Linked DNA regions of Homo sapiens. The protein of the gene in region 2 interacts with the protein of the main gene of each other region in a biochemical or structural test. Each region holds a gene or a part of one and is shown on either strand. Other genes may lie near its edges.

Region 1 (3,649 bases), on a different chromosome or scaffold from region 2:
TCTATGGACTTTAGTTTCTCCCATTTGTAAAATTTAGCACTCCAAATATGATATGGTATATAAAAAAGTGTTAAATTATAGACAAGTGGCCTAAAAATGTTAGTGTATATTTTAAAGTAATTGCCTCAAGGTAATAACCTTATAAAACTAGTAGTATCTAGCATGTTATCTCATTAAAAAATATATCTATATACAAAATATGGCCATAAAATTATAATTGGAGAAAAAGTTAAATTTCATATTTGAGTCCTAACTGCATGCAAATTGTCATGAGCTGTGGCAGTGTGCGGAAATGGAAATAAGTCCCTGGTAATTTTTATCACAGTGAGCCAAGATACTACTACACTGCCATAAGACAGGAAAATGTGGTGCACAAATATGAATACGAATCTATTCATTCTTTCTATTTATGTTTGTTCAGGTAGACTAGAAATTTATAATTTACTTATAACTTCCAACAAATTAACTTTTCCACAAGGGAATTTTTAGAGATACTACTAGATTTGCATCCCACTAATCAATAACATGGGTAGTGGCAGGTCACAGTGAAGCAGTATAGCAACTGAAAGAAAAGGAAAAATAATCAAAAACAAATGAACCAAGATGAAAATTAAATAATGGTAGTAATAATGATGATGATAATGATGAACTCTAAAATGACAAAACAGTTTGTAGGCAAACTAGTGTCCTTTCTGTACATCATGATGTCTCACTTGCCAGAGCACTTTCAACAGGGTAGGGTGTGTACAGCAGGGAAGAATCTTAGTTTTGTTAGAGACTTTAAACCTAAATATTAGGCTGGTTCAAGTCTCATCACAAATAAAAACATGTTAAGAATCTGCTGTGACAAATACATTATCCGAGTAGATATCTTAATGTGCACTTCCTTACGCCGAACATCAGTCACTGCTGCAGACGATTCTCGAGGTGGCCTCACTGGGGTGCACTGTCCCCCATAAGCTACGTGTGACTAACTAACACTGGCAGTGGTGATCTCACAACAGAGCATATGGCTGACTCATTGGAGGTTTTATAACAGAGGCTGTGTCCCTGGATATTCTGACTCAATATGGGTGTGGCCAGACAGGGAGGAGACAATAGGTGGGCAGGTATTTACATTTTTAAAAAGTCAGAAAGGTAGTTCAGACATCCATTCCCCAGTGAAGACCACTGACAGACTGGACCAGAGAGAAGTTTATCCCTGTCCTCCTCTCCCTTCCCACCAAGGGCCTTTCAAGCACCCATTGCTCACTATGTATACTAAGTGTCCTATATATAATATACACTTTGCATTTGATCTTCCTCATGGCCCTGTAAGGTAGATAACATTATTATCTGATATCTACCTTACACACAAGGAAACAGCAGCACATACAGGGCAAGCCACTGGCCCATAGCCACATACCTAGTTCTGGGATTTGAATCCAGCAATCTTTAAAGCTGCCTATCTTGAGAAATGTGCAGATAAAAGCTATTGCTTTTATACCACATAAGAAACAGACAATTTTTGTCTAAGACACAGGGTCTCACTCTGTCCAGGTTGGCTGGAATGCAGGGGCACAATCATAGCTCACTGCAGCCTAGAACTCCTGGACTCAGGTAATCCTCCCACCTCAGCCTCCTGACTAGCTGGGAGTATAGGCACTGCCACCACACCTGGCTAGCTTTTTTTATTTTTACAAATTTTTGTAGAGGTGGAGTCTCAATATGTTGCCCAGGCTGGTCTGGAACTTCTGGCCTCAGCTTCTCAAAGTGCTGGGATTATATATGTAGAGAGATCAATTTTATGTGCCATATTTAACAAATGCAGGGAAAACTTTTCTTAAAGCAGTCCTCATTCTGTTCTCCTAGGAAAAACAGCAATGGCTTGCCACAGGTTGTCTAAAAATGCCTCATGGTACACCTCAAAGTCCAAATTATCCTGTCTGGGACCAAAAATTGTCTTGGTGGCTTAATGCTATAAATTCCTCAGCCTACAAAAAACCCATTAAACCGGCTAAAGGAAACTTATTTCCCCTTTCTATTTTCCCTCATCCCCCACCTTCTTAAATATAATGACTCAATTTTTCAGTCATGCAAAATATAGTAATAGAACCTAACTGGAACATTATGAATGTTAACACAGAATTATCAATATGGCTTGTGTGATATGACTGAGCATGTTTATACTGACACTGCTTCATTTTATTAACCACTCTGCTATCATAAACACGCTGGCTGATGAATATTTGCATTTTAAGTGATTTTTCATCAGTAAAAAATTTTATTCCTTAAAAAAAATTTATAAGTTGTAATCTCTGTATATAGAGTTGGCAGAAGACTTTGCCAAGAGCACATTCATTGTTTTTTGTGCAACTAAATCAACATAGATAAAACACATTTTTCAAAAATATTGTTCACGTGCAAAATTTGTACTTAAAATGCAATCCATCAAAATAGCCTGTCATCAAACCACTGCTCAGAAACAGACAAGGGTAAGTTTGAGCTTTAAAGGGATAATGAACTAACAACACCTAACATATCTACTTTAGAAGAATATTCTGGTATAAAAACACATTAAATACCTTTAACTACCAACTCTGCATAGTTTGATATTCCAACACCTCCTTCAGTGCGAATCATGCAGCGGTACTTTCCAGCATCTCGTTTGGTGGTATTCACAACATTAAATGAAGCAATGAAGCGTCGGGAGCTGGTCACCTTGATTTCCTTCAGAGGAGCATCTCGCACATCAATGCCCTGTATCAAGTGGGGTGGGGAGGACAAAAAGAAGCAATATAAGCTGTCAGAGCAAAACAGTCAGACACCCAATGGTATATTATCCATGCTGTTTTCATGCAGACCTTGGTGCAGTTGCTTATTACCCATGGGCAGTTGTACCAGGAGAATAGCTGAGCAGGAAACTAAAATTCTGCCATGATCAACACCTTAAAGACTGAGCGATGCAAAATTAAGTGTGAAGACATTTTTTGTTTTTGCCTCTTCAAAATATTATGTTAATTAGTGCAACAGGGGAGTAAAAATACAGAAAACTTGTTACCTTGTTTTCAAACTATCCACATTTGGTCTTATAGCACTTTCTCTTATTTGTATGCTTGACTAGGAAATAAAAGTAGCTCACCCACTATCCTATTACTGACCTCATTTTATAAATGAAGTAATAAACACTGTATTAAGAATAACATTCAACTATAAGTTAGGTTTTAGAGTACTCCCTATTGAACAGGACTAAAAGAATAGTTCAACCCTTTTGACGTTCTTCCTGGATATACAAAACCAAACAGAATTAGGTGCCTAGTAACTATTAAATGACATTCATACGTAACAAGAGAGGTTCCTCTCTACATCCCATATCCCCAGGACCACATAAACAAAGTTCCACAGCTGGGGCAGTTTGGTCTTTTATTATCCCCATATATGGTCTTTTATTATCCCCATATATTAAGTAACCCTTTTAGTTATGCACACTTGGAAATCCATTCTATGCTTCCAATAGTTTAAAGCCTCAAACCTCGTGGCTTCAAAAGCAGGTTAGAGATTTAAAGTCTCAAAAGCAGGTTAGAGATTTTAGTTCTCTCTCTTGTATGTGCTCTTGCTCTTGTGCTCTCTCTTCTCTCTCTCTTTCTCTCTCTCTCTATATATAATATAT
Region 2 (3,649 bases):
GTGAAAAGCCCACCCTCTGGTACCAGGCTCCCTGGGTTTGAATCCCTACTCTGTCACTTACAAGCAGTGTGTGTAACCCCAGGCAAGACTGCCTCACCTTTCTGTGCCTCAGTTTCCCCATCTATACAAAGGTGGTGACAATGTCTACCTCAAGGGTTGTTATGGTTGGACGAGTTAATATATATGAAGAGCTTGGGACAGTTTCTGCTTTATGTAAGTGCCTGGCACCACCTAAGTATTTGTGGCTGTTGTTACAAGCATTATCATTATAGCAGGCAAGCAGTAAGTATTTGTGGGAAAAGTGAATCCTTGTGCAACAAATATTTACTGCTCACCTCTGATGATAATAATAATAACCTAAAACCGTGGTTCTCAAACATCAGTATGCATAAGAATCACCTGGAGAGCTTGTTAAAAATGCAGAGCCTTAGATAACAGATTCACCAAGTCTGTCATAGGGCCAGAAATTCTATTTCTGAGACTGGTGTCCTCTGTCTATACTGAGAGTAACAGTCCTTTGGAAAAGTAGATTTGCCATCCTGGACTTCTATACTTCCTTTCCCAACGACAGACAATTGTCATCTGCTTGGCTGACAAGACCCTACCACCACATTAATTAACTTAATTTGGAGATCAAGATAAGAAAACAACAGTGGTAGAATCAATAGCAACAGAGCATTGCAGTAGCCACACAGCTTTTGCTAATTCCCAGGCCTTACGCAGAGTTCTTCATGCAGATGTGAGCTGGAGAGGTTTCTTGGATTGATTTGCAAGGTTGATTACTTCACTGTATTTCCACACAAAGGTTTTCATGGGAGATGTGTTATGTGCCCTCACTCTGATTGTTCTCATCCCAGAGTTGGAAAAATTGGTTCTAGAGAGGATCAACCAGTAGGGTGATCCTCCCACCGGCTCACCCACCAAGTCCATTCAAAACCCAGAGGAGGACCAGCCAGACGGTGTCTTGCTGCTTCACTAAAAACCCTTTATGTTGCATCTTGGAAACTGTCTGAGCCCAGACACTGGCAAGGAGAGGGTTGAGTTTCCCAGACAGCATCAGAGCATGTACCAGGCAGCCTGAGCTGGTATGGTCCTTGGACAAGAGGAAGCAGCGGGCCAAGTCCCATGCTCTCTGCCTGTGATGTCCACCCAATCTGGCACACCTGCTCCACCACTACCTTCCCCATCACAGTGCCATCTTTTGGTTTTTTTGGTTTGTTTTGTTGTTGTTGTTTTGTTTTTGTTTTTGTTGTTGTTGTTGTTGTTTTGAGACGGAGTCTGGCTCTGTCACCCAGGCTGGAGTGCAGTGGCACCATCTTGGCTCACTGCAACCTCCACCTCCCAGGTTTGAGCGATTCTCCTGCCTCAGTCTCCTGAGTAGCTGGGATTACAGGCGTGCACCACCACGCCTGGCTAATTTTTGTATTTTTAGTAGAGATGGGGTTTCGCCATGTTGGCCAAGCTGGTCTCGAACTCCTGACCTCAAGTGATCCGCCTGCCTCGGCCTCCCAAACTGCTGGGATTACAGGCATGAGCCACCATGCCCAGCCCCATCATTTCTTTGTAGCATTTGTTTTGTGCCAGGCATGGTGGGAAGCCTTTTTCTTGCATTATTGCACATGTAATTCTTACAACAGCCCTTGGATGTAGCTACTACTCAAGACTCCATTTTACAGATAAGAAGACAGGCTCTTAGGTCAAATAATTTCTTGGTGTTGCACAGTTCGCAGTGGCAGAGCTGCATTTCACATCTTTATGCCAGGATGTGTGGCTCAGCAGGCACATGACAGGCTAGATTCAGACCATCCCCATGGTGTGAGCACACTGTGGGGGGATTTTCTGACAAAAGAGATCAATTGGGGTATGATAATTCAGAATTACCTGGGAATCTCCCTGTCATTAGACATTCCATCCCTCCCCCAACTAAACGCCAGCAGCTCCCCACCCTAGTCATTGAGATGACCAAAAAACGCTCCCCATTTCCAATCCCCATGCAAAGCACAGCTCAAGTGTCCTCCCTGTGTCCATCAGAAACATGGGTGGTTTTGCTGTTTGTTTTTAAGATTCTTAGCACAAACATGGTTTCTGTGACCAGCAACCAGAAACCTGCGAGGTCCAGTGGAGACGCAGCTATCCTTCAACCTCCAAGGCCCTGTGCCATCAGCTCCAGGAGAAGTTATGAGCAACAGCTGACTGTCGGACAGACTCTTTAATCTTCCAGCCCTTTCTAGACAGGGCCTGTCAAAGGAAGGTCCCTTATGGCCAAAATTTCTTTCCAGGGAGTCAGCTCAGACAGCACAGTTGTCCCCAGAGAATCCTAGATTTAGATTGTTAATGCTTGAGGGACTTAAGAGATTATTTTTTCCAATCTCCTCCATTCACAAGGCCTAGAGAGGTGGAGTCATCTACCCCAGGGACACAGCTCACCAGCATCCCAGCTGGGGCTACAGTGCTGTCTCCAGTGTTCTCTCAGTTCTGGCCACCCTGCTGTCAGAAAACTAGCCATTGTGGAACTCAGGAGCACCATGAAGCACCGAAACGATGTCATTCGAGGGTGTATCAGAGCAACTAGGGATGCTGCGTGTCCAGAGCAGGGGCCTCAGATGGGCAGGACATCTGCCTATCACAGTCGCAGGGCTGTCAAGTGGAAGAGGGCTTTGCCTTGCTCTATGTGGTCCAAGCGGTGACATCAGGACCAGTGAGTAGAAGGTCCAAGACCACAACAGGGTTTGACTCATTCTAAGGATGAGCTCTGTAATAGTCAGAGCTGTGTGGCCAGGAATGGGCTGCCTTGCAAGGAAGGAGTCCCTGTTGCAGGAAGTGCTAGTGAAGACAGAAAAAGACACTGGGTGGGAAAGCTGCAGAGGGAGTCAGCCTCTGATTAGGGGACAGATTCCACAGCCTTAAAGATGCCTTCCAACCCTGCAAGACTTTTACCCAAGGTGATCACCTGAATCTCCCTCTCCCACCCCCAACGCAGGGGTCCTATCCTCTCTCATACCCCACGACTGCGGGAGGGTCACCCTAGTAGCAGGGTGTCCACCAGTCTCGACTCGGCAGAGTTTTCAGAGATTCCAGTGAATACTGTGACCTTAAATGAGGTCACATAAGATGGGACTGTGCCTACTGCTCTTCCCACAAAAGACTGTGGATTCCCTGCAGGGAGAATGTCCCTTTGGGGGAGTTGGTCCAGAGGACTATGGACTACACTTGCATCTAAGAACCTTGGAGGGGAATGGGAGGAGGGAGAAGAGGTAGGCTTCCTCCCACTCCCACTACCACTGGGGCCTCAAGGGATCTGCCAAGTTTGCTCCAGGAAGACTATTGCCAGCCTGGCTGTGCCTCATCAGCTGTTCCCCATGATGCTGAAAAGCAAAGCTAGGAAAATTCTCCATATGTTGGGGCCCACGGAGGGGGAGACAGCCACAAACAGCTGTGAGACCTTCATCGTTCCTGTATGATGAAATGACAGTAATTATGCCTCACATTTCAGCAGAGCATTTATAAGGCTAAAACGGGTTTGCTGTGGTTTTTACATGTGTGTGTTCATATGTTGCCTCATTCTGTATACAAAGCACTGTCACATGATGTACATTTTTATGCCTCTTATTCTTATTTATGCACATATACAGTAACAACTGCTCTGTAG
Region 3 (4,123 bases), on a different chromosome or scaffold from region 2:
TCCCCCATCCCAAATCATGTTTTGCCACATTGTTAAGAGGCTGTTTCTAAAGGTTTTTTGTTTGTTTGATTTTTACTATCATTCCTTCCAAAAACCGTCGTGGCTCAAGAAATATGTCTTAGAGTAAGGAAAAAGGAAATTGCCTTTTGATGACAAGCTTCCGCCCCGACTTTTGGACACTGAGACCAACATGTTACAGCAAAACATATTAGCCCAACTATGTTATGGATGTAACCTTATAAATTGAAATTGCTTTCAAGATTGGGAATTTTCAGATCAAAAGAACATGGAAAACACACTACTTAGTTTTAAAATGTATTTGTCCAAACTTGCCAAAAGTTTTAAATAAAATACTTTAAAGGAAATCAAGTTATTGTCATATTTATACTAGATTTGAAATACTAACAATTTCTGAATTTAGGAATAAAATAAGATAAGTCCATTTTTAAGTCAACATTTACAGTATTCTTGTTTTGACAAATACAGATGTTCATGAGGAACCCTGGGGAAAAAAAATCTAATTTAGATGGTCTAGTTGCCGTTAAACTGGAAAGGAGAGGACAGATATATACAGAAAATCCCCATTTCTACAAATGTGTGAGGCTTAGAATGCACCAGTTCTCCAATACAAGCTAATCCCATTCGTTTAAGGAGCCCCTGGCACAAAGGCACCCACTTGCTAAATATATGCTATATCGCAGGTTTGCAGAAACCACCCTGCCCAGGTAGACCCAAAAGAACCACAGATTTCTTCCCAAACCATATTCCAGGATTTCTTTTCTTTCTCCTGCATTCTAAAGAGCAAACAAAGAAAAGGTGCTCGCTCCTCACACTTCTCTAAATGTTTTAACAAAAGGCTGCTGAATAAACACATTACTCATTTAAAAATTGAAAAGAAGTTCTATTCCTGATATGAAAGCAACCAGATTTGCATTTTAATAGTTGTGGGCGAGCGCCACCTGGCGGGAGCATCCGGAACGGGCGGCGTTCAGCACTGGACAGCTTCCCGAGCCGGTACGGGTTTTACCGCTTGCTACCCAAGAACGATTCGAGACCCGTGATGGAATATTTTTGATCCTGTTTCTGCCGCGGGAACGTGAGTGGTATTAATGTGTGGTTGGCCGGTCATGCCTTAGAGGATATAAAATCTGAGTCACGAATCATGCCTGGATCCCCAGGACTGCCCCGGGCATCCTCCCTAGTACCCCTCCCTCCCCTAGCACACCTAACACACCCCCCAAAATGAGGAAAACAAGAATTGTGCACCATCTTTAGAATGGTGCTGTAGCTGTCCCTCTTCTCTCACTTGCTAATCCAACCTTTCAGCTTCACACACCTCAAAAGGAGTGTCTTCGTCACCCAACTTCCCAGCCAGGGAAACAGGCTGTCCCTTCACAGAAGTCGCCTATTCCGCTTCCATTTTAGTACCAAGCAAGGAAGGCTCTAAAGCATTTCCAACGGAATGTCCTTCCAGCGGCCCTTAACCTCAGACGCAGCTTGTGCAAAGACGCTGTACCTCCCCACAGGTTCGTTCTTTTGCTCTTTCTTTCTTCCTTTCCTTCTTTCGGTGAAATAATAAATGGGCACAGCTGTTGCTTAGCGATCCGAAACCAGCCTGTTCCTGCGTCCCACGGGCTGATCTCAGCCTGTCCCCGCAATCCCAGCCACCTCAGGCCGGCGTGGTTACACCAAAAGCAATCGGTGCTAAGAAACTTTAAGGTGATTTTGAACTTGGAAGTACACCTGCAGCACTCCCTTCTCTTCCCTCCGCCGCTACTCTTGGGGGGGGGGGGGCTCGGGGGTGGAAGCTGCCTGCGGTGGGGCTTGGTGATGTGTAAGACCCTGGACTGTGGTGCCCTCCAGCACCCGCCAACGTGCCTTTAGGAGCACGGCAGGCACCACCCCCCCGCCCCCGCTCCCCCTACTCTGGGGAACTACCTCTGCTCACCGCCTTCCCGTGGCCAAACCCAAATATGAGTTCCCCGAACTTTTCAGGAGCGGACGCGCTCACGGGTCAAATCCACTCCCCTCCAAGGGCCTTAACACGGGCGCCCAGCTACCTCGGAGAAAAGCCAGCGGGTAGGGCGGAGGTATTGCTCTCGGTCATCAACGCAAACATCCCCTCGGGTGCCTACAGCGGCCTGCTTAGGGGAGCAGCGTGTTCAGAGCAAATGGAGAGCTTCCTGTATCTCCGAGGAAAAAAGAAAAGCCGCCGCCCCGGCAGCCTCGGCCTGCTGGGGACCTGTCCTCCCCACTAAAAGCGCGCGCTGCCCGAGGAGCTGCCCGGGAGAGAACGCTCCACCCCGGGCGTCGGTGCCGCTCCTCGTCTCGCCGCCCCAAACACTCAAGTGGCAGATTCCGACAAGTGGGAGGCAGCAAGTGGAAATATTCGCAACAACCGCGGAAAGTTACTCCAGCCCGGGGGGCCGGCAGGAAACTGAAGCGGGGAACTTCGCCAAACGCGGGCTGCCGAGGGACGCGAGGGGCCGGGCTCGCTGGCCGGGGCGCGCGGGGACACTGCTTCCCGCGCCTGCAAGCTGAGACCCGGGTTCCGGCCATGGGGACCCGCGCCCCCGCGAGCCCACACAACTTTCTCCTCCGAGGGCCCCGCGGCTGGGGGCCCGCGCGCATCCAGGAGGGAGCGGGGAGCCCAGGGGAGCCGGGCGGGCGCACTCACCTGCGGCGCTCTGAGCCCGGGCGCCGGGCAGTGGCGGCAGCTGCAGCCTCAGGAGCAGGCTGAGGGCGAGCGCGGCGAGGCTCGCCATCCGGGCGGCGGCGGGCAGCTCAGCCCCTTCCCGCGGGGGCCGGGGCCGGGACTGGGGCGGGCGCGGGGTGGCCCCGCATCGCCGGCGCGGCCGCTGGCTGTGCGCGCGGCTGGCTCCGCTCGGGCTCCCGGAGCCGGCGCTCCTGCGTTCCAAGCCGAGGCGCGGCGCGAACTGAGGCGGGAGGCTGGGCGGGGGCGGGACGCGGGGGGCGGGGGGCGGTGTCCCCCGAGTCCTAACGCCGCCGCCGTTGCCGCCGCCGCCGCCGCCGCCGCCCGCCCGGGCGCTCCGCCTCGGCCGTGCACACACCCTCACGCGCACGCCCGCGCCTGGCACACGCCCGCGGCTGGCACACGCGGGCTCCCCCGCGCACCCTCTCCGGGGCCGACCAGCTCGGGCCGCTGGCACAGTCACGCGCGTCCACACATCACCCCCGCACCCACACGCCGGGCAGGGTCCTCGCCTCTTCGCCCCGCGCCGCGCCGCGCAGCCAAGCATCGTCTGCCCTGTGGGGGCGCAGGTACGGGGGCGGTGCGGGGAGGAGGAAGCTGCAGCAGCCGTTTGAACTCGGGGTGGGGAACAGGTGAATGGGGGTTCGGTGGCGAGAAGAGGGAGGGAGGGAGCAGCCCTCGCAACTCAAGATAAGGGGCCAGGTGAATTGCGAAAGCGGGTGGGGGCGTCTGCCCAAAGCTGGGGCAGGCGGCTGCTGGCCAGGGTCTCGGGCACACCCTGAGATGAGAATTTCATCTAAGAGCGCGCGCGCGCACACACACACAACCCACTCACACTCTTCTGGGCGCATCGCTGACCGCGCCACAATCGTCGTCCCCCTCAATTAGCCGCCCACCCCACCTTCTTCTTCACCCACATCTCTCTCTTGTCCCCACCACCACGCGGAAGGGGGCGCAGAAGGGGCATGAGGCATCCCCCCACCCCCTACAATTTTTCCCTGGCAGCCTTCCCTTTCCTTTTCTAGGGAGACAGAACCTTGTAGCTTTTTCCCTTTTCTTCTCGGTCTTAACAAAGACCTGGTTGGGGCTGAAAGCCTAAAACCATAGATCAGGGTTGGAGCTGTCCCTGGCAGCCCACGGCCCACAGCCTGGCTCTCTGCTGTCCTGGGAGGCAGCTGGTACCTGAGTCTTGGCTGGGGGTCTGAGATGTAAAAGCCAGGGGCAGGGATACCCAGAAATGCTTAAGGGATTCACACTTTGTGAACACTTTGCTACCTGGCCAAAGCCCTCCTTCTTCTGTGTCAGCACAGCCCCCCACCCCCATCCTTGTTGGGGTACCAGGGACTGGACTGGGGAGACTGTAAGTGAATTGTGAAAATCAAGCATGGCAGGGTTTCCAAAAGTGGGGAG

The links.
Region 1: the proteins of DSCAML1 (region 2) and PTPRM interact in a biophysical measurement, tested with the Homo sapiens proteins (one large-scale study listed by IntAct).
Region 3: the proteins of DSCAML1 (region 2) and PTPRT interact in a biophysical measurement, tested with the Homo sapiens proteins (one large-scale study listed by IntAct).

What each region holds. Positions count from the first base shown.
Region 1 is NC_000018.10:7,948,271-7,951,919, reverse strand, and holds part of PTPRM (receptor-type tyrosine-protein phosphatase mu isoform 1 precursor), read right to left. Parts: intron 2,740-3,649; coding exon 2,565-2,739; intron 1-2,564. UniProt on the Homo sapiens protein: Receptor protein-tyrosine phosphatase that mediates homotypic cell-cell interactions and plays a role in adipogenic differentiation via modulation of p120 catenin/CTNND1 phosphorylation.
Region 2 is NC_000011.10:117,787,077-117,790,725, forward strand, and holds part of DSCAML1 (cell adhesion molecule DSCAML1 isoform 1 precursor), read right to left. Parts: intron 1-3,649. UniProt on the Homo sapiens protein: Cell adhesion molecule that plays a role in neuronal self-avoidance. Promotes repulsion between specific neuronal processes of either the same cell or the same subtype of cells.
Region 3 is NC_000020.11:43,186,969-43,191,091, forward strand, and holds the start of PTPRT (receptor-type tyrosine-protein phosphatase T isoform 2 precursor), read right to left. Parts: upstream 2,939-4,123; 5' UTR 2,766-2,938; coding exon 2,678-2,765; intron 1-2,677. UniProt on the Homo sapiens protein: May be involved in both signal transduction and cellular adhesion in the CNS.